Linked DNA regions of Homo sapiens: region 2 is linked to region 1. A link means that fine-mapping ties the variant in region 1 to the expression of a gene that starts in the linked region. Tissue or cell type: whole blood. Region 1 holds a variant in brackets; the other region holds the start of a gene. All regions are shown on one strand. Distances are between the middles of the regions.

Evidence for each region. PIP is the estimated chance that this variant, and not a neighbour inherited with it, causes the effect.
Region 2: it holds the start of ACSS1, and the variant in region 1 is fine-mapped to the expression of ACSS1 in whole blood (TOPMed, PIP 0.98).

The regions. Positions count from the first base shown.
Region 1 is chr20:25,957,411-25,965,514 of GRCh38, forward strand. LINC01733 (long intergenic non-protein coding RNA 1733) reads left to right here. Exons shown (of 4, transcript NR_110003.1): 3 at 5,652-5,786; 4 at 7,593-8,104. Among named protein-coding and RNA genes, the nearest start is that of LINC01733, 5.7 kb to the left of the region's middle. The variant C/T (reference allele first, on the strand shown) is at 3,364.
Region 2 is chr20:25,054,867-25,062,970 of GRCh38, forward strand. It overlaps ACSS1 (acyl-CoA synthetase short chain family member 1), which reads right to left and starts at 3,273. Exons shown (of 14, transcript NM_032501.4): 1 at 2,903-3,273. The coding sequence starts at 3,236. It overlaps LOC124904882 (a long non-coding RNA gene), which reads right to left. Exons shown (of 2, transcript XR_007067555.1): 2 at 8,096-8,104. RefSeq lists enhancers at 2,369-2,498, 3,149-3,754 and silencers at 2,599-2,868, 2,999-3,528.

The DNA.
Region 1 (8,104 bases):
AAAACCTTCACAAAACCTGGTCTCTTTCCAACAGCTTAGCTATGTGAGAATAGCTTTTATAACATGACAACTCTAAAAATAAAACCATTTTAAAGTTAAAGCTGTCCTTCCAGTTGCTGTTTCAAACTTTATCCCAAGAACTGAGGTGTCGTTCAGTAAAAGGCAACTACAGCCTTCTCAGGAGTAAGGCTAAGTACTTGTTTTATGTTTTCTGGTGATGAAGTTATTTCTTGTCTTTGAGTTTACAGTGACAGCTATAAAAGTGATTGTCAATAGTATTAGTATAATTTAATTTCTAATAGAATGTGTTTTCCATGTATGTTTTAGTCAGAGCTATGATTTTCTTAATAATACCAGAACTTGTTTTGTGCTCTGTGATGATGATATTAGTGATCTGTACTCTCAGCAGTATTTTACAGTACTTCAGACTATTAATACACTAATCTGTGTTTTTGGCTGGGTGCTGTGGCTCATGCCTGTAATTCCAGCACTTTCGGAGGCTGAGACTGGTGGATCACTCAAGCTCAGAAGTTCGAGACAAGCCTGAGCAACATTGTGAAACCCCCTCTTTACTAAAAATACAAAAATTAGTTGGGCGTGGTGGTGGGCACCTGTAATCCCATCTACTTGGGAGGCTGAGACAGGAGAATTGTTTGAACCCAGGAGGCGGAGGTTGCAGTGAGCTGAGATCACACCATTGCACTGCAGCCTGGGCAAAAAGACGGAAACTCCATCTCAAAGGAAAAAAAAAAGAGTAAATAGTAAGATCGGGCATGGTGGCTCATGCCTGTAATCCTAGCACTTTGGGAGGCTGAGGCAGGTGGATCACCTGAGGTCGGGAGTTCTAGACCAGCCTGACCAACATGGAGAAACCCCGTCTCTACTAAAAGTAGAAAATTAGCCAGGCTACGTGGTGCATGCCTGTAATCCCAGCTGCTAGGGAGGATGAGGTAGGAGAATCGCTTGAACCCGGGAGGTGGAGGTTGCAGTAAGCCATGATCACTCCATTGCACTCCACCCTGGGCAACAAGAGCGAAACTATGTCTCAAAATAAAATAAAATAAAATGAAGAGTGCATAGTATTCCTTTATGTGTGTGTGTGTATGTATGTGTGTATGTGTGTGTATATATATATATATATATATATATATATATATATATATATCACATTTTCTTTATCCTTTCATCCTATGCTGGCCTCCAAGGTTGCTTTCATATCTTAGCTATTATGGATAATGCTGCAGTGAATATGGTAGTGCAGTTATCTCTTCAGTATGCTGATTTCAATTCCTTTAGCTATACACACATAGGTGGGATTGCTGGAACATACAGTAATTCTATTTTTAATTTCTGATGAATCTCCATGTTATTTTCCTTAATGGCTCTATTAATTTACGTTGGGAAATAAATTCCTTTTTTTTTTTTTTGAGATGGAGTCTTGCTCTGTTGCCCAGGCTGGAGTGCAGTGGTGTGATCTAGGCTCACTGCAAGATCCACCTCCTGGGTTCACACCATTCTCCTGCCTCAGCATACCGAGTAGCTGGGACTACAGGTGCCCACCACCTGCCTGGCTAATGTTTTTTGTATTTTTAGTAGAATGATGTTGGGAATGGACTGGTTTATTCAATAAATCGTGTTACGTACATTGACTAATAGTGTGTAGGATTGAAGTTATATTTACTGAATTCTTTACATTAAGGTATAGTCAAAACAGACTGAATAATTAAATGTAAAAATGATCTGGAGAAAACCTTCTCGTTGTGTTTTGTTTTGTTTTTTTGAGATGGAGTCTCACTCTGTCATCCAGGCTGGAGTGTAGTGGGGCGATTTTGACTGACTGCAACCTCAGTTTCCCAGGTTCAAGTGATACTCCTGCCTCAGCCTCCCAAGTAGCTGGGATTATAGGCATGTGCCACCACACTCAAATAATTGTATATATTTTAAAATAGGAATAGATTTTCTAAGCTAAACTGAAGATAAATGCTAAGGAAAGAGTGAGATTTGACTTGATAATTATGTGTCTGAATGAATTAGCCAATTAATAAAATGAAAACAGGCCAGGGGCAGTGGTGCATGCCTGTAATCTGAGCACTTTGGGAGGCTGAGGCGGGTGGATCACTTGACGTCAGGAGTTCAAGACCAACCTGACAAACATGGTGAAACCCCATCTCTACTAAATACAAAAAAGTAGCTTGTTGTGGTGGCACATACCTTTAATCCCAGCTACTTGGGAGGCTGAGGCAGGAGAATCACTTGAACCTGGGAGGTGGAGGTTGCAATGAGCCGCGATTGCGCCATTGCACTGCAGCCTGGGCAACAAGAGCAAAACTCTGTCTCAAAAAAAAAAAAAAAAAAAAAAAAAATCACTGCCCCACCAACTTTTTCACATAGAATGATTAAGGATTCCAGAGCCCATGCTACCTCTAGGGGCTCCTACCCCTCCCACACTACACATATATCTTGACAGGGCTAGTTACAGAGAAGAAAAGGCCCAGTAAATTAATATCACAATCATTGCCACATACCCACCAAAAACTCAAATTAAAATTTTGACAAAATTAAGTATCAAGAAGAATGCGAAGATTTGGGAATTATCAGACATTGTAAGACTGTCAGTTGGTGTGTTAACATTGGGATGAAACCAATAATAGCTAATAAAATGGAAGATATGTTTACGCTGTAACCTATGGTTTCACCTCTTGTTTTATACTGTTCACTATACACACTATACACACCAATGGTAACCAAATATAAATACACAAATGTTCACAACAGCATCATTTGTAACTGACAAAAATGAACACAACCCACATGTCTACCAACAATGAAGGGATACACACTGGTGTACTGTATTTTTATTTTTATTTTTATTTTTGAGATGGGGTCTTGCTCAGGCCCCCAGGTTGGAGTGCAGGGTGCGATCTCGGCTCACTGCAATCTCTGCCTCCCAGGTTCAAGTAATTCTCCTGTCTCAGCCTCCCGAGTAGCTTGTCTTACTGATGGGTGCTGCCACTCCCAGCAAATTTTTGTATTATTGGTAGAGACAGGGTTTCACCTTGTTGGTAAGGCTGGTCTCAAACTCCCTACCTGAGGTAATCCACCTGTCTCCACCTCCCAAAGTGCTGGGATTACAGGTGGGAGCCACCACGCCCGGCCTTTTTTTTTTTTTTTTTTTGAGACTGAGTCTCACTCTGTTGTCCAGGTTGGAGTACAGGGTGCAATCTTGGCTCACTGCAACCTCCACCACCTCCCAAGTTCAACTGATTCTCCTGCCTCAGCCTCCCGAGTAATTGGGATTACAGGCACCCACCACCATGCCTGGCCTTTTTTTTTTTTTTTTTTTTTAACAGAGTCTAGTTCTGT[C/T]GACCAGGCTGGAGTGCAGTGGTGCAAACTCGGCTCACTGCAACCTCCACCTCCCAGAGTGATTCTTCAGCCTCAGCCTCCCGAGTAGCTGGGACTACAGGCACATGCCACCACGCCCAGCTAATTTTTTGTATTTTTAGTAGAGATTTGGTTTCACCGTGTTCACCAGGATGGTCTCGATCTCCTGACCTCACGATCTGCCTGCCTCGGCCTCTCAAAGTGCTGAGATGACAGGCATTAGCCACTGCATGGCCTACTTTTTGTAGTTTTAGTAGAGATGGGGTTTCACCATGTTGGCTAGGGTGGTCTGGAACTCCTGAACTCAAGTGATCTGCCTGCCTCAGCCTCCCAAAGTGCTGGGATTATAGACATGAGCCATCGTGACTGGCTGTACTGTTTTAATAGAATGCAGAAACAATGCTAAGTGTGAATATTAAATACTTAATATTGGGTAAAAGGAGCCAGAGGCAGCAGGATACAGACTTTACTCCAATTATGTAAGAGAAAAATCAGGCAAAACCAGACTTGACTTTAGGCTTCTAAAAAATGCATAATAAGGCCAGGCACTGAGGTCAGGAGTTCGAGACCAGCCTGACCAACATGTAAAACCCCGTCTCTACTAAAAATACAAAAATTAGCCAGGCATGATGGCAGATAGCCCATGCCTGTAATCCCAGCTATTAGGGAGGTTGAGGCATGAGAATCACTTGAATCCAGGAGTTGGAGGTTGCAATGAGTCAAGATCATGCCACTACACTCCAGCCTGGGTGACAGAGCAAGTCTCCATCTCTAAAAAAGAAAAAAAAAGAAAAAGAAAAGAAAGAAAAAAATACATAATAAAAAGAGAACCTAGGAGAGAAATGCAGATATCCACAGGTAATGTGGTTATCTGTTATATCTGTTACTAATAAGGGATGGAAGACTTTAGGATCATTTAGGGGCATACAGAGGACTTCTTGGTGGTGATAGTGCTCTATTTCTTCACCTGGATAGGTATCACACAGATGTTTATTTAATAACTGATGGATCCATATGTTTGTTTGCATATTTCACAATAAGAATGAAATAGAGGAAAGGAAGGTGAATGGAAAGAGATTTCTCCATTCATCAAAATTTTAAAGTCATGTTTTTCCTCAGGTTCTTCTCCAAGTTCAGTCTGAAATGGTGAAAGCAGCCAAGTGCGGTGGCTCACGCCTATAATCTCAGCACTTTTGGGAGGTAACAGAGTGAGACTCTGCCTAAAAAAAAAAAAAAAAAAAGAACAACAGAGTAGTTATCAGGTAGAGAGGAAGGGAGGAAATAAAGACATGTGGGTCAGAGATACACAGTAGCAGATATGTAGGATGAACGATCCTATACATCTATATACAACATGAGGACTATAGGTAATAAAATTGTACTGTATATGGGATTCATGCTAAATAAGATTTTACCTTCCCTTGCCACACCAAAAAATGTGCGTATCTGTGATAGATATGGTAATTTGCTTCACTATAGTAATGAATTTTTACTATCTATATGTATTCTATAACATCATATGTGAACCTTAAATATACACAATAAAATTTATTTTAAAGAGAAAAAAATGGCCAGGTGTGGTAGTTCATGCTGGTAATCCCAAAACTTTGGGAGGCTGAGGTGGGTGGATCACGAGGTCAGGAGTTTGAGATCAGCCTGTCCAACACGGTGAAACCCCGTCTCCACTAAAAACACACACAAAAAATTAGCCGGGTGTGGTGGCACACACTGTAATCTTAGCTACTCAGGTAGTTGAATTGCTTGAACATAGGAGGCAGATGTTGCAGTGAGATGAGATCTCACCATTGCACTCCAGCCTGGGTGACAGACCGAGACTCCACCTCAAAAAAGAATGTATATATATATATATGTAGAGAGAGAGAGAGAGAGAGAGAGAGAGAGAGAGAAAATTTATGAAAGTATGCACAACAAAATTAAAATGTTGACTCTAAAGTGAGCTACTGAGTGACTGGGGTGCATGAGAGAAAAGGTTACTTAACATTTTTATACCTATTGAATTGTATCCTATGTATGCATTATAAATTTAAATGTGCAATAATGCAGATAACTGAAATGTGGGTATGCTTTGATTAGGACTTTGCATTTCCCATTTGCTCAAATTCCTTATGATTCTAGATGCATATGAATAGAAATACAAAATGTAAGGAGACACGGGACTTCTGATAGCCCTTTCTTCTTTCCACATTTTGTGTCTCTGGCTGTAGTTTGCCATATGAGTCCATATGGCTAATGAGCAAAATATTTTTCAGATGGATACATGTGACCAAGCATTGCAAGTTAAAGATATTTCTGAATCTTGGACCTCTTATTTACAGTGAAGCCCCCTCATGCATAGTAAAGCAGAGAGGAATGTAAAAGGTTGCTGCATGGATAATCAATTTCTGGTGAGCAATAATTATAGGCAATGTAAAATGAGACAATTATTGCTTTTCATCATATCTTGAAAGAACTCTTACAGTCCATGATTTTGAAAAAAAAATCTAAGTTCACTCTTTTCTTTTCTATAAAAAAAGACATTATCCAGTAGAAGTTCAAGAGTAAAATCTGAAGGCAGCTTATCTGACCTAGCCACATGGTCTTGCCACTTGTTAAATATAACTTTCTACACACTAACTTCTCCAGACCTCAGATCTTCAACTCTCTAAAATGGAAACCTAGTAGTATTTGCCTCTAGAACTGCAGCTGAACTGAGCATTTTAGGGAAGGAACAAACATACACACGATATATATATATATAGTCAGATTATGAACCCAGTGTAGCCCAGAATGCAAAAATTTCTCAGTAACAGAGATCCCCAAGAGAAAAATGTGATTTAGCCTATCTCAGTGGCCTTTCATGTGGCAAATGAAAAGTTAAAGTCCATAATGAGAAATATATGGGCAGCCAGTGACACCATCCATTCAATGTAGACTCTCAACATCTCTGACAATCATTCCCTGTTGTACTCCAACCTGCTTATATATTGGGGTGATATCACCTTTTGATCATAACATACATAAACCTCAAGCTTCAGTAAGAAATATTTATGAACAATCAGATATTCTGTGTTTCCAGTCAAAACTCAGGTAGATCACATTTTATGTGACAGGAGAAGGCACAGTTGATGCCCAGTTAACTGTGAGATCATCTCTGCCTGCAGCTTCCTATCATCATAGCAAGCTCTTTCCCTGCAGTTCACCATCTGTATCTGCCCTTTGCTATATAGATAGCAAAAATAAGCATCTAAAAAGATGCTCAACACCATATGTCACTAGGGAATTCAAATTAAAACAATGATGAGATACCATTACACATCTATTAGACTGGCTCACATCCAAACACTGAGACTACCAAATGCTGATGAGGATATGGAACAACAGGAACTCTCATTGATTGCTGCTGGGAATGCAAAATTGTAAAGCCACTGTGGAAGGCAGTTTTGCAAATTCCTTCAAAACTAAACATACGCTTACCATATGATCTGGCAATTGTATTCCTTGGTATATGCTCAAATGACTTGAAAACTTATATCCACTCAAATTCTGTATATGAATGTTTATAGCAGCTTATACGTAACCAACAAAGATTGGAAGTAACCAGGATATCGTACAATAAGGAAATGGATAAACTAATTGTGAAACATTCATACAATGGAATATTCTTCAGGAATAAAAATAAATGTACTACCAAGGCATGACAAGACATGGAGGAATCTTAAACATGTATTTCTAAGTGAAAGAAGCCAATGCAAAAAGCCACATAGTGTAGAGTTCCAATTATATGGAATACTAAAAAAGACAAAACTAAGCAGATGGCATTATATAAAGTTCAGTGGTTGCCAGAGGCTTCAGCAGAGGGAAGGATGAATAGGTGGAACACAGAAGATTTTTAGGGCAGTGAAACTTTTCTGTGTGACCCTATAATGGTGGATATATTGCTTAAGCATCTGTCAAAGCCCATAAATGGTAGAACACAAAGAGTGAATCTTAATATAAGCCATGAACTTAATAATATCAATGTTGGCTCATCAAGCATAACAAATGTACCGCACTAACAAGATGATAATAGAGGAAGTGTGTGTACTGTGTTGTGAGGCAGATATTAGAGCTCAATATGCCTTCTGCTCTATTTTTCTGTACACCTACAACTGTTCTAAAAATTAAGTCAATTATTTATTTGTTAATTATTATTTTTAAATTTATTTTTCGAGATGGAGTCTCACTCTGTTGCCCAAGCTGGAGTGCAACAGCATGATCTTGGCTTACTGCAACCTCTGCCTCCCGGGTTCAAGCGATTCTGCTGCCTCAGCCTCCTGAATAGCTGGAATTACAGGCACCCACCACCATACCCAGCTAATTTTTTGTATTTTTAGTAGAGACGGGGTTTCACCGTGTTAGCCAGGATGGTCTTAATCTGCTGACCTCTTGATCCACCCACCTTGCCCTCCCAAAGTGCTTAGATTACTGGCATGAGCCATTGCACCAGGTCTTATTTATCTTTTTGAGACAGGTTTTAGCTCTGTCACTCAGGCTGGAGTGCAGTGGTGCAATGATGGCTCAATGCAGCACCAACCTCCAGGGCTCAAGTAACCCTCCCACCTCAGCTTCCTGAGTAGCTGGGACCACAAGCGTGTGTCACCATACCTGACACATTTCTTAGACCTCAGAAAAGATGCTCAACACCATAAGTCACTAGGAATATTCAGTATTCAAATAGAGGCTT
Region 2 (8,104 bases), 900 kb before region 1:
ATCCGACCTTCTAAGAAACAAGGAGAGTGAAAGATAGCTAAATCTCCAAACAAGCTGGCATGATAAGGGAGCTCCTTCCACTTTCACCTTTACAACAAAAGTAGCTTTGAAATAACCAGTCCACTTTTTGTTCTCCATGTCTGCATCCTTCAGCCCCTTCTGTCTATAAAACCATCCTCCTCTGTTCAGCTCATCAAACATTCCTTCTGTTTTATGGAATGGGGTGTTTCCCAATTCTATAATCACGAATAAAGTGAAGTAAGGTCTTTAAACTAAATTTGTCCTAATTTTGCCCTTTGACATGAGTCATCCCCATCGGGCCCTGTCCAAAGTCCTGACTCACAGACTCTGCGAGGAATATAAAATTGTTGTTATCTTGTGTCACTAAACTTAGGGGTGGTTTGATGTACATCAATAGTAACTAGGACAGAATTCAGTTACATACGGCCCTTGTTTTACAGATGAGGAAACATGCAAAGTACAGTACAGGGAAAGCAAGAAATCAACCCGAGTCATGATTCTAAAGACACCTGGAGCCACGAAACTGTGTTGCGCCATCCACAGCCCATCATTTGCTTGCTGTTTGTTTAATAGGGCCAAGGCCAGGACACTAATCCCAATTCTGTTTTAGAAGTGCCTTCATCTGCCCTGGTTTGAGGCGTACAGGCCAGTGGTTCTCAAGCCCGAGTGTCCTCTGGAGCATCTGAAGGGCTCGTTATAAACACAGGTGTCAGGTCCCATCCCAGGGTTTCTGATTCCAGATGTCCAGGATGGGCTCCAGAATTTGTATTTCTCAAAAGTTCTCAGGTAATGCTGATGCTGCAGGTCTGAAGACCATGCGTTGAGAACCACTGGTATTCTTGAGGGGGTGAGGTGAAGCTTTCTTCAAGAGTGATATTCCTTTGGAACAAGCCATCTGACTTTATCACACACAGCTGACAGATCAGACCAAAGTGTTCTCATCCATCCCACGACTTTCTAGATGCTCCCAGAAGAGTCATGGCCTGGCCTGGCCCTTTTTCATACTGTCTTCTCTATGGTTTGCAGACACCGGCAAAGGAAAGAGATATTGCTGACCCATGAACAGGAGGGCACGCACATCCCAGGGGAGAAAGCTGCTGAAAAGCTGTTTTTCAAGTTAGTTTTCTGAAGCTCAATTTCTGGCTAACGTAGCCATAAAGGCCATATTATCAGAAGAAATAAGTGAAGGAAAAGGAGACAGAAGAATGCTTGCTGACCACACCCTGATCCTGACCGAGCGAGGTTCAGAAGGTCCTTGCTGTTGGCCCCAGGAGGTCCGCCCCACTGTCTTATCTGAGTGGGGCTGCAAGTGTGCACAGGCCAACTGTGAATGTTCCCCATGACCTTGGCCTCACAAGTCCAGAGCAGGTCACTTTCCACCTCTGTCCTTGGGCAAGCTGCTCTAGTCTCCTTCAAGGGCACATTGCCCCAACTCTGCAAACCAAAGGGTTTGGTTTTTTTCCCACTAGTTCAAGGGCACTTGCTGCTGACTCAATGTTAAAGAAAACACTTATCTAGTAAGTGACTCATTTTAATTAAACCAGCAAAGTAATATACAATTTCGGGGAGTGGGGGAGGTCCAAAGTTCCTTCCAATTTCTTTGAAAAATAACTGCAAGACACTATCTATAATTGTATGACTATTTCTGAAGTTATCTAAAATCGCTACTGCTTATGGGTCACCAGTAAGCGCTGGGTCTGCTGCACACCTTGCAGCACTCAGCCTAACCTCTGAGCATGACTGCCCCCATCCTCACAATGAGGAGACTGAGGGCTGGGGGGGCAGAACAACAAGGACAACTGAGGGAGGAGTTGGAGAAAATGGGGCCCTGGTGACCCTGCCATAAAGACCCGCAGGTCCTTTCTTAAACACTCCCAAATCCAGCAAGCTGGTTATGACCACCCTTCTGGTCTGCATCCCTCTGATCAACACCGTGTCTGCCAGCCCCTCCCCGCAGGCCCCACACCCAGGCCCACCCTGCATCCGGAGCCCACCTCGCACTTGGCACCCACCCTGCGTGGCCAGCCCTGCCTGCAGTTCAGGGCCTCCCCCTCGGTGCCCAGTCAGCGCCTTAGGTGGGGGCGAGGGTGCTGTGTACGACCCCCAGCCCCAAATCTTAGCAGAGCAGCAGGGCCTCTGCTCAGCAAGTTCCAAACAACTGACCACCAGTCAACTGTTTGGGGCCGACGTCAGACCCCGCGGGTCCAAAGCAGGCCCCAGGTCGCTGGGGTGCAGTTCTCTGAGGCCGAGAACGAGAACGGGGAGGCCGCCGTTACTTCCTTCCCGTCCACAGGCCCCAGGCCCCAGGCCCGCAGCGAAGAAATAACTGGTTCCAGCTGCCACGCCGAGTTTCCTCCTCCCCAGGTCGCCCGCCACAGCTCTGTTTGTTTACGTGGGCAGGGCTTGTCCCCAGGCTGATCCCCGGGCACCGCAGCCCGCAGTGACAACCGCCACCGCTTTGTTTTTCCCTCCACCCCGGTATGGGAACGGGAAAGTCCCGACTCCGGGGCGCTCGGGTGTAGCCCGCGGCTCCCCGCCGGCTCTTGCTCAGCGGCGCTATGCACCCGGTAACGCAACTCTGGAGTCCGCCGAGCGAGGAGCCGCGCCGAGCAAGGCCAGCAGCGGGGCGTCCCAAGCGGCCGCCGGGTCCCCGCGGGCGCCGGCCCGAGCTGGGCACGTGGATCTGGGGCCCGATGGGATGAGGGACGGGGTGACGTGGAGCCACTGCTTAGAGCGGGCGGGGCGGACGGAATACCGGAGGAGGGGCCCCTGCAGGGCTGCGATCCGCGCTGCCCGGGGACGGCTGCCGCTGGCGAGAGGCTCCGAGTCCCCTCGGGACCCAAGAGTTGGGGGCGTCCTGGGTCTCCCGAAGCCCACTCACCAGAGACATTTAACTGGCCTCCCAGGAACCAGCCGATCTTGCCAGTGCTGAAGTCGCAGTCCCAGACGGTGTGGTAGGGGGTGTCCCACACGAGAGTGTCCCGCGCCAGAGGCCCCCAGAAGGCGGCCGGCTCCCGGGCTGCCTGTGCACTCAGCGCGGGATACGAGCCTGGCTGTGCTGCTGCTGCTGCAACTGCGGGAGCGCTGCCCGAGGGTCCCGAGGCCGCCCTGCGCGGCGCGCTCACCCCGCACGGCGGCCGCGCGGGCTGCCCCGAGAGCCCTCGCAGGCTGCCCAGCAGCCTCCCGACGCCGCGGCCCAGGGTGCGCGCCGCCATCTAGGCAGGCTACCTGAGCTCTCTGTGCTCCCAGAGTGGGTGCCTCACGCCCGGGGCGCCCCGTGGAGTCTCCGCGGGCCCCGCCCCTGCTCCGCCCTTCCGCCACCATCCATTCCTCCAGGGCCCCCTCCCGGAGCCCGCCCGGGTCCCACCCCTTCTTCTGCTGCCCGGGAGAGGGGGGGCCGCTTAGGAAGAGGGGAGCAGCGTGGGGAAGGGGTGCAGGGGAGCGCGGGGCGGAGCAGGGTCCCAGGCCCTGGCCCAGGCGCTGCGCTCCGGTGAGTCTGCGGTCCCACCCGGATGTTCCTCGAGTCGGCCTGTTTTGGTTTCAGTTTGCACGCTCTCCTGCAAGCCCCGACAGCTTCTTCGAGCTGCCAGAGGCACGTGCGGCCCAGGACCCCAGGACGCAGGCTCAGGGCCTGGGGCGAGGGGACCCTCTGGGATGGGGAGGAGCCGGGAGGGAGCCGGCACCAACGTTAAGGGGGCTGGTGCACCCAAGCGCACTGGTGGGTCCCAAGACAATAGGTCGGTCAGTTCCGCATCTCAGAGGCTGAAGCCAAGGTTTTCATGCCTTTGTGCGCCCCTGAGAGTGAACCCCACCCCTGGAGTCTCAGCAGCACGCGAAAGGGGCTGGCGCCTTTCTAGGCTCCCGCCTAGAAGCCAGGAGGCTGCGCAAGCCTGAGTCCGTGTTCTGGGTCCCATGCTCCAGCCCCCCAGCTGCCGGCCTCCGTCCTGGCGGGGGTCACGTCCTGCTGGGGGTCGGTGGTGGGTGATATGGGGCGATGAGGACTTTCTCCAGTTGCTGCAGCATCTGTAGCCTGAGTTCAAACTCTGTGACCTTGAGCAAGTTCCTTAACTTCTCGGTGCCTCGTTTTCCTTTTGGGGAAGACGGAAGTAATGTCTCCCTGGGGGGCGGGGACGGCGGGGGTGGGCAGCTGCAGTAAGGAATACATTGGACAATGTCTGTCAAGCGTCTACCCTTGCGTGGCCCCATAGTAAGCTCAGTAGTGGGGATGATGTTTTTGCAGCTGTGGAGCCAGGAAGGACAGAAGGAAACGTATAAAACTGGTCTCCACCGAGTTCTTAAATATTCTGACACCCAAGAAGTAAATTCATAACAAACGGGTAAACACAGGGAAGAGAGATTTTGGAAAACTGGTTTATTGAGTTCTCTGTGATGGGAAAGTTTCTTTCCCTTGAGCTGTAGGGCTTGCAGAGGGGAGGAGCCTGCCATTGGAGGAGCCTCTGCGTGGGCTAGCCACCAGCCCCTGCTGGGGAATGCTGCTGTCTGCCAGAGAAGACAGGAGTGTACCTAGAGCTGGAGAATCAGTGACATCTACTAGCATAACACATGCCCTGCACAGTGCTAGCGCTTGACCTGCATTTTCTCCTTTATTTATTTATGATACTTTTTTAGAGATAGGGCCTGTAGCCCAGGCTGGAGTGCAATGGTTCCCATCACAGCTCACTACAGCCTGGAACTCCTGAGCTCAAGCGATCCTCCTGACTCGGCCTCCTGAGTATCTGGAACTACAAGCGTGTGCCACGGCACCCGACTAGTCTACTTAATTTGAAACTTATCTAGTGCTGTCCATTCCCACCAACTGTCAAACTCCAGGTGGAAAAAATGAGGAAACTGAGCCCAAATAAATAAAAGGACTTACTAAAGAGCATGCAGCTGGCTAAGGGAAGAGCAAGACTAACACCCAGTGCCCCCAGTGGGGAGCTCGTTGGCCTAAGTTCATTTGAATAGAATATTAAAGACACCCAGTACAGGGCACTGAGAGGCAGAGGTCAGTGAGTAGTAAAATTGTAAACTGAGAAAGCTCCTAACTGTGGCAGGGGGTCCCAAAGACGGCCACCAACTCTTCCTTCCCACGCCTGCACCGCCTGCACATGATGGTGTGCTGCTCTGTCCAGAGGAGGACCCTGGCTGGCTGGATTGCTTTGGCCAGTACAGCCTGGTGGGAGGGATGCTGTGACAGTTCCATGTGGAGGTCCTGAGAGACCCCGTAGCCCCAGCTTATCCTCCCATGGAACCCAGCTGCGAGCTGTGAGGAAGCGGGGCTGGCCTTCCAGAGGAAGGGACCCAGGGCGAGGATGAAGCTGTCCCATCCACAGCCAGGACCAACTCCCAGACAAGAATGACGCCAATGTGGAGGCTCCTGTCCCAGCCAAGGCAGCCTCATGAGTCACCCCAGATAACACCTGGGATGCAAAGGAACCTCCCAGTCCACTTACAGAATTGTAGAAGGAATAAATTTAAGCCACTAAATTTTGGGATGGTTTGTAACTCAGCAGTGGTAACTGATACAACAACTGAGGCTGAAAAATGCATGGTTCTTTCACTCACTGACTATTGCCTCTCAGTGCCCTGTACTGGGTGCCTTTCTTCTCTCTGCCTTCCAAGTGTTGAAGTGCCCAGGAGCTCAGCCCTCAAATCCCCCTTTCTCCCCTGCCCCCTAGGAAACAGCAGCCAGCTCTCTAGCCTCTCACTTTCATATTGACACCTCCCGCCTGGACCTTTCCTCCACATCTCAGTCCTGTATTCAAATGTCTCATTCACATCTGAAACATACCAAGTCCTGGGATTCTTCCCCACAACACGGATCTTCCATGTCAGTGAATGGAAATGGCATTTTCCTGTTGTTTGGGCTCATACCCTTGTCATCCTAGATTCCTCCCCCTCACACTCCACATGCAGCCTGTCAGCAAATCCTGTGACTCACCTTCAGAACACCTGCAGCACTAACCTCTTCCCCCATCACCATCCCCTCCTGCTACCATCCTAACCATACCTATCTCTTTTAGGATTATTCAGTAGGCTTCAAATTGCTTTCACCCTTGCCCCTGACAGCCTAACCAGCAGCCAGTGCAATTCCTTTAAAACAAGAGTCAGAGGAACTTGCTCTGGAGCTTGGAACAATCCAAAGGCTCCCCAGTCTCCTCAAAACAAAGACCACATCATTCCCTGGCCCACAGGCCATAGCCTCACTACTTAACGTGTGGTCCATGGGCCAGCAGCATCACTTGGATACTTTGTAGAAATGCAGAATGCCAGGCTCCATCTCAGACCTGCTGCCTCAGAATCTGCATCTTAAGCCCCAGGGGAGCTGCATGCACATTCACGTTAGAGAAGCGTTGCCCTCCCTGATCCAGTGTACCCTCTTCCTCTGCTCTCACTCATTGGGGCTCCAGCACATCAGCCTCCTCCTGTCCTTCCCATCACCCAGCAGGCTCCCACCTCAGGACTGCCACACGATGTCCCTTCTGCCTGGAATGCTCCACCCAGTTGTCCACAGAGACTCCCCCTCACCTCCTTCAGGTGTCTTCAAACATCCCTTCATCCAAGAGCCCTTTCTTCCCTGTCACCTACATAAAGTTATACCTCCGCCCTCATTCCCTAGTCTCAACCCCTGACTTGACTTTTCTCCATGGCTGTTACTTATTAGCTCTGTGTTTATCTTCCTAGTCCTCCTACCAGGAGGGAGCCCTGTGAGAGAAGAGACCAGCTATGCTGCTTGTGACTGGGCCTGGCACCAACAGCCACCCCATGGAGAGTGCACGGCAATGGCTCCTTCTTCCTACTACCTTCGTTTCTAAGGTCTTCTACAGTTGCAATGAGAAAAGTAGGTAGAACTAACTCTGTTTTAAAATAAATGCTACCTCGTTCCTTCTGGTTGGATAAGAAGAAGTGATCATTTCAGAACCAAACATGTCAGAACCAACCAGGTGGTGCAGAACTGCACTTCTTGCTGCCCGAGTTACCTAGAGGTGGCCTTGAGACCTTCCTTCTGAGTGTCACAGCCCAGGCCAAGGTCGTCCCCACTGCCTCCCTCCTGGCAGCCAGTCATCAACTCTTGCAGAACAAGCACAAGATTGAACAAGCACAAGGAGCACCCACTCTTGGCCCTGCATCCCGAAGGACCCTCAGAGGTTTGGACAGGGCAGCAGGCTATCTGGGCAGTGCTGGTCACATCTTCTCCCTAAGAAGCCGCTGGCCTCAACTTCAGGAGAGCTCACTTGGAACGCTGGATGCTGTCAGGCAGGGGCTGCAGACACACGAAGTGCTTAGAGGGCAGGGTTCTTGGGAATCCGGGATTCGCTTCTGTCTCGGTACTAATGTTTAGGCCAGAAATGCCAACACAGCTGTGACTACTGACCCTACAACCTGCAGCAGTGAATGCTCTTGCCCTTGCTGTACATGTGTGAAAATAAGCAGGAGGACAGAAGCTCACCCGAGGCCACCAGCTAGTAGGTAGCAGAGCCATAGCGTCCAGAGCATCTTAATTTAACAGCTTTAGGGACAGAGCCCACCAACACGGCCTTCGCCATTTGCCTTCATAGCTCCTGCCATGCCCATTACTCCAGAGTCGCAGTGCTCAGATGCTCAAGAAACAGTCCTGGCTGATAACGGATCCCCAACCACTCCCTGTGCACTCAGTGGTCTCCAAAGAGCTGGTAAAACCCTCCCTTCCTCTTCTCTCCTCCATCTCTCCCTCTTCCTGTTCTCTTCATTTGTCTCTGTGACCCCACACACACACACCTCTTTCCAATGACACTCAGAAGAAACCTGTGAGCTTCTCCCATGTGCACCACCAAGAGCTGAGGGCTCTCAGTTGGACAAGGACGGTCCAGTTTTGGTCCCTGCAAGCAAGCAGGTCACAGTTCAAATTGGGGAGAGACAGACACTGTTCAAATAGCTGAAATGCACAGTAAAACCAAAACACAGAATTTAGAAGAGCATGGCAGAGCTCAGATCAAGTACAGGACCCAGATGCTGGGAGTCTGGAATTGGCTTCGTCACCAGTTCACTGAGTTCTTTCTCTACTCTGCATCAGCTACAAAGAAAGATCACCAGATTGGGGAAA